Homo sapiens: one gene and its partner. The protein of the gene in region 1 purifies or fractionates together with the protein of each later gene. This does not show direct contact. Each region holds a gene or a part of one and is shown in the gene's direction. Other genes may lie near its edges.

Region 1 (3,500 bases):
TCTCTGAGTTAAAATCTCTGGTGTTTTCAAATTTTAGCTGTATTGTGACATTCGAACTAATAAAGATTCCCTGAAACTTAAATCCATTTTGTTGTGCCTTCTGTATGTCTGGTGCCGTGTCAGGTGTGCAAAGCTGGATGAGAGAGGTATTTCCCTTCAGGTGCTTTTTGTGCACTTGTAGGTAGCAGAGAAATGACATGTGTGTAATAAAACATGACAGACACAAATATGAATTTTAAATTCTTTATTACATACTGCCTGGTACTGTCACTATTGGTGAATGGACTTCATCATGCCTGCTAAACTAGAAGTTTCTTGAGGATCAGGAGTATGAGTAGCCATCATCATATTGTATGTCCCTGCCCTGTGTGTGTATTTTGAAGATTACGTTGTTAATAGAAGGAGATACATGTTTGTTTATTTCACTTCAAGAGCTTAGCTAGTGGATGAAGGAAACCTTTTTGAAATCTGATTCTTGATGCCTAAAATTTCAACTTTGTATTCTGGCTGTGGGCATGCAAATTACAAGCAGTGACACTTTCTCAAGCATGATTACAGCTTCTAACCAATTCAAACAATAAAGATAATGGTGGACTGCCTTCACTTGAGTAGACACGATATTTGCTCTTGTCACATGACTACCACTTTGGGAAATTTCAAAAGGATGAGAGACTGTATACGTATCTGAGGTTTTTCCAGGCTACATAGACAAATTTGATTTTTGTATTATTAACCAGTCAATCTTTTCTTTAGAAGACAGATGGAGTTTGTGTATTTGTGTAGTTGTGAAAAAGCAAGATTCTGGAAGTATGTCTTTAGTGGAAAGGAATCAGGTCACATCAGAAATTCTACTTGTCTGTGACTAAAGGGTGATAAAATAGAGAATTTGGTTTAAATGGCTGGTTTTGTGGGTTGAAGCATGCTATGGATCCCATTAAATGTTTTTAAAAAAAAACTCAATAGGGTGATTTCTGGGGTAGTGGAGATGTGCCTTTGTGTGGGAGTCAATAATGAAAATGTTTAAAATTTCACCAAAAAGTACAGCACAGAAGTTTGGCTGTTGGTTACTTTCACCATCCATTAATAAAAAATACTGAAAACCAGACGGTGTGTTAAGGACAGAGTTTTCTTAGGACATATGTGGATGATTTCAGCATTGAATTGTGCTTAGCACAAGATAGACATCTGTGTGTAGACATTGGCCCATGGTATGTTTTTGTTTTTTAACTCACTAGGTGAGAACTTAAGTCTTACTTAAAAGCAGTAAAAAAATTTGTTTCCATTAATAAAATGGTTCCAAAGAATCAGGTGTTAACGTTCCCGCTCCTGATAAATTACAAGTATTTTCACTGTGAGACAGAAGAGTTTTGATCAGAATCAGTTACGTTTTCTTGAGATTGGGATTGGTACAACACTTAAAGAGTACGGACTCTGGATGCAGGCAGCCTGTGTTCAGCATCATGGCTGTGCTTTTAATTAATGGCATGGCCTTAAATATTAAATAGCTTTCTCACTGCCCTGAGCCCCAGTTTCCTCATCTGTACTAGGGAGTTAATACTACTACTACGTTACAGGGTTGCTGTGAGAATTAGCATAAAGCACTTAGAACTTTAGTTAAAAGCTTTAAAAAGTATTAGCAGGTGCTAGTAGCAGTGGCACTGGATATTATTTTAAAGGTGAACTGTTGGACCACTTGGATGCTTTGTTTCTTTGGTTGGGAGGCTTTCTACTAGAGCATTGAAATTCTTTCTTTCTTTCTGTTCACTGACTATTGGACTCATCTCTGCTGTTAGGCTTTAGGAGGGGGAAGTACTTTTTTTAAGTTTTGAATTGTCACACAGGCATCTGGTTATCACTGATGGCAGATGGACTAAGTAAAGAGAGACATCTCTGTTTCTTGGAAAAGGAAGGCCGACAAAGCCTGGGCTGGCACCATGTTGCAGCTATTGAAATACTATTTCCCTGTGGACTTGACTTGTTTAGCTGTATGATACTTCTGAATAAAAGGAATAAACCCCAATGGTTTCATTTAACAGAATTAGGCTTTCGTTAGAAGGCACTATTTTTTACTTGTATAACCTTAGTTGATGGTAAACTTGAAGCTTGTTAGTATCAGTGTAAAGCCATGTGTTGTGAGCTTTCTGTGCCACTATGAATGTTCTAATAGTAGCTTTTTTTTGTAATTTTAGAAGTAGCTAAAATTGCTGCTCTGCCCCAGTAATTCAGGTGGCTCAAGAATGACTTCGTAGGATAGCAAAATTATTTGTTTATGGTAAAGCTAAAAACAAATACTGAAGCTACCTAATCAGGAAAATAATTTGATAATTATAGTTTTGTTTAGGCTGCTGCTGAAATAATAGCTAACTTTAAAAAGTTAAGTCCAAATGTTTTAGTTTAGTTGTGTGGACATTGGAAACTGCTGACTAAAAATAAATGTTTCTGCCTAAACAAAGTGAATTGCAGACTGTTCTTTCCTATTCTGGCTAATAACCAGGTCTTAGTTTTTAGTTGAAATCCATTTTTATAAAATATATACTATAGAGGTTTATATAAAATATATTATTAAAAGCATATTTTGCTTTAAATGTGCAGGGTAAAGTGTTATAATTCCTTCTTCCATGTTGTGCTGGTTTTGTTTATTTGTTTCAGCTGGTTTTTATAAGCTTCCACACACTAAGGAGGTTGGCAAATATGCTTGTATTTAGAGGTGTGACTTTTGTTTTCCTGTTTAAGAGAGGAAATGATCATGACTGTTGCACCAAATAGATAGAGATATATATTTCCTTTAGTTTTAGATACCCTGAGGACTGTGCTGGGAAATTTTTTTTTTGTTTGAGACAGAGTCTCACTCTGTCACCCAGACTGGAGTGCGGTGGTGGCATCTCAGCTCATTGCAACTTCGGCTTCCCAGGTTCAAGTGATTCTTGTGCCTCAGACACCCAAGTAGTTGGGATTACAGGCATGCGCCACCACGCCTAGCTAATTTTTATATTTTTAGTAGATGCAGGGTTTCCCCATGTTGGCCAGGCTAGCCTCGAACTTCTGACCTCAAGTGATCTGCCTGTCTCAGCCTCCCGGAGTGCTGGGATTATGGGCAATGGGCACGAGCCACCATGCCTGGCCTGTGTTAGGAAATTTTTAGGAAAACAGGTTGCCATGGTATCAGTACTATAGTCCACAATAAAACTTGCCTGTTTTGAGACAAAGTTCTGTCTAACACATTGTTAATTTTTCTCTAGTGTTCTTTCTTTCTTTCTTTCTTTTTGTTTTGTTTTGGAGATGGAGTCTCACTCTGTCGCCCAGGCTGGAGTGCAGTGGCGCGATCTCGGCTCACTGCAACCTCCATCTTCTGGGTTCAAGCAATTCTCCTGCCTCAGCCTCCCGAGTAACTGGGATTACAGGCACCCACCACCACACCTGGCCATTTTTTTGTATTTTTAGTAGAGATGGGGTTTTACCACATTGACCAGGCTGGTCTTGAACTTCTGACCTCAGGTGGT
Region 2 (2,295 bases), on another chromosome or scaffold:
TGCTACGGGCTCTGCAGACAGAACTGTGCGGCTCTGGGACGTCCTGAATGGTAACTGTGTAAGGATCTTCACTGGACACAAGGTATTTTACACTCTTACTATTCCAGCATCCAAGGTTGCTTTCAAAATAAAAATATTTTTTAAACAAGTGACACATAAATTTTAAAGATACCATTCTTACTACAAAACTTTAAAATTTTGTCTTATTTTCCTAGACATACTTTGATCTTTTCTATGAACTTTTTTCTAGGGACCAATTCATTCCTTGACATTTTCTCCCAATGGGAGATTCCTGGCTACAGGAGCAACAGATGGCAGAGTGCTTCTTTGGGATATTGGACATGGTTTGATGGTTGGAGAATTAAAAGGCCACACTGATACAGTCTGTTCACTTAGGTTTAGTAGAGATGGTGAAATTTTGGCATCAGGTAAATGACTATTAATGGCTTTACGATAAATGCTATGTTAAGAGGAAACAGTGTTGACGACTGCAATACTAAGTCCTTATGTTTTAGGTTTTACTTCCCTTTAGCTATGATTCCAGAGTGTCATCCTACATCAATCACTTCTCAGGTTAAAGTACTGCTTGATAATGCTCCTTAGGAAGGAATAGAGTTATTGGTCAAGTTTAGATTTTTCACCCAAAATGTACAGTAAATACATAGTGTAGTGGACAAAATGTCCGAATGTAAATATGATGGATGCAACTAATGGTTTCCTTTGACTTCCCCTTAGGTTCAATGGATAATACAGTTCGATTATGGGATGCTATCAAAGCCTTTGAAGATTTAGAGACCGATGACTTTACTACAGCCACTGGGCATATAAATTTACCTGAGAATTCACAGGAGTTATTGTTGGGAACATATATGACCAAATCAACACCAGTTGTACACCTTCATTTTACTCGAAGAAACCTGGTTCTAGCTGCAGGAGCTTATAGTCCACAATAAACCATCGGTATTAAAGACCTTTTGGAAGCTACTGTTTTTAAAAAGGGAGACTAAAAGCAAATACCTCAGTGATTAATATTTAAGCTACAGAGAATGTTTTTGTCTATATGGATCTGGAAGTATGCTGCTTGGAAAAATCTGAACAGGACAGTTCCACGTTTCTATAGCAACCACATTTGACTAATTTCCGTTAGTTGAATAAGAGGTATTATGATCATGGAGGGGACATTTATGGTGCTTTGGATTGTGTGGAAACTATGCATTTTCTGTTCAAATGCTATTTTAATTTATTACATTTAGAAAAAAAGTTGATTTCAATAATTCATCCTGCTTCAAGATTCAAATTCAGAAATATACTATCATCTTGAATTTTAGCTGAAGAATCCTATGAGCATGTATGTTTCTGCTGTAAAAACGTAGTTACTGTATGGCACTCAAAAACTATGTTAAATGATCCACTAACTTTTTTTTTCTTGGCCCATGATTAATGGAATGTATGTAACTAGGTAGGGTTCCTTTCTTAGATCTAGAGGAAGTACAGCCACCCACTGACATCTGAATTTATATACCTGTTGAGTTTTGAGTGCACCCAAACACTCGATAAACCAGGTGAAGAAATTTAGCTTCCATGTTCTACTTCAGCTAAAACAGCTACATACAACCTAGTACACTTGAAGTCAGACAGACATTTCAGTTGCTTACCTCCAGTACTGAGCCTTGCTTTGGGAAACTAAAAGATTTAGACCAAGTCACTGCCAGTTTTTGCCTTTGTTGCATTTTGTACAGTTTTTATATTTTTGATATCTTGTAAATAAAGACAACCAGCTTTTCCAGGTTCATAATTTATTGTACAAATTGAATTATCACATGATGAGTTGGCATTAGCTTCTCCAGGCATGGGAACTTAACAGATGAGGTTAAGAACCGTAGACAGTTTAAAATCCTATAAACAAAGCAAACAGTTTAGATACAAATGTGGCCAGCTTTACTCTTAAGACACTCAAGAATTACTAAGGTAACATGAACCCACTGAAACTGAATGCGAATTTATTAGATTGTCAAAGATGTAACACCAAAAAAATTAAAGTGTATCTCAGATTAATACTTTTTTTTTTTTGAGACAGAGTTCGCTCTTGTTGCCCAGGCTGGAGTGCAATGGCACAATCTCGGCTCACTGCAACCTCCGCGTCCCAGGTTCAAGTGATTCCCCTGCCTCAGCCTCCCAAGTAGCTGGGATTACAGGCATGTGCCACCACACCCGGCTAATTTTGTATTTTTTAGTAGAGACAGGGTTTCACCATGTTGGTCAGGCTGGTCTCGAACTCCTGACCTCAAGTGATCC

What was found. Proteins that work in one complex are often made in the same cells at the same time.
Region 2: the proteins of TBPL1 (region 1) and TAF5 purify together in Homo sapiens (affinity purification with mass spectrometry, with the first as the bait; one large-scale study listed by BioGRID). This does not show direct contact.

The regions. Positions count from the first base shown.
Region 1 is NC_000006.12:133,956,224-133,959,723, forward strand, and holds part of TBPL1 (TATA box-binding protein-like 1), read left to right. Parts: intron 1-3,500. UniProt on the Homo sapiens protein: Part of a specialized transcription system that mediates the transcription of most ribosomal proteins through the 5'-TCT-3' motif which is a core promoter element at these genes. Seems to also mediate the transcription of NF1. Does not bind the TATA box.
Region 2 is NC_000010.11:103,387,271-103,389,565, forward strand, and holds the end of TAF5 (transcription initiation factor TFIID subunit 5), read left to right. Parts: coding exon 1-82; intron 83-250; coding exon 251-428; intron 429-735; coding exon 736-953; 3' UTR 954-1,795; downstream 1,796-2,295. UniProt on the Homo sapiens protein: The TFIID basal transcription factor complex plays a major role in the initiation of RNA polymerase II (Pol II)-dependent transcription.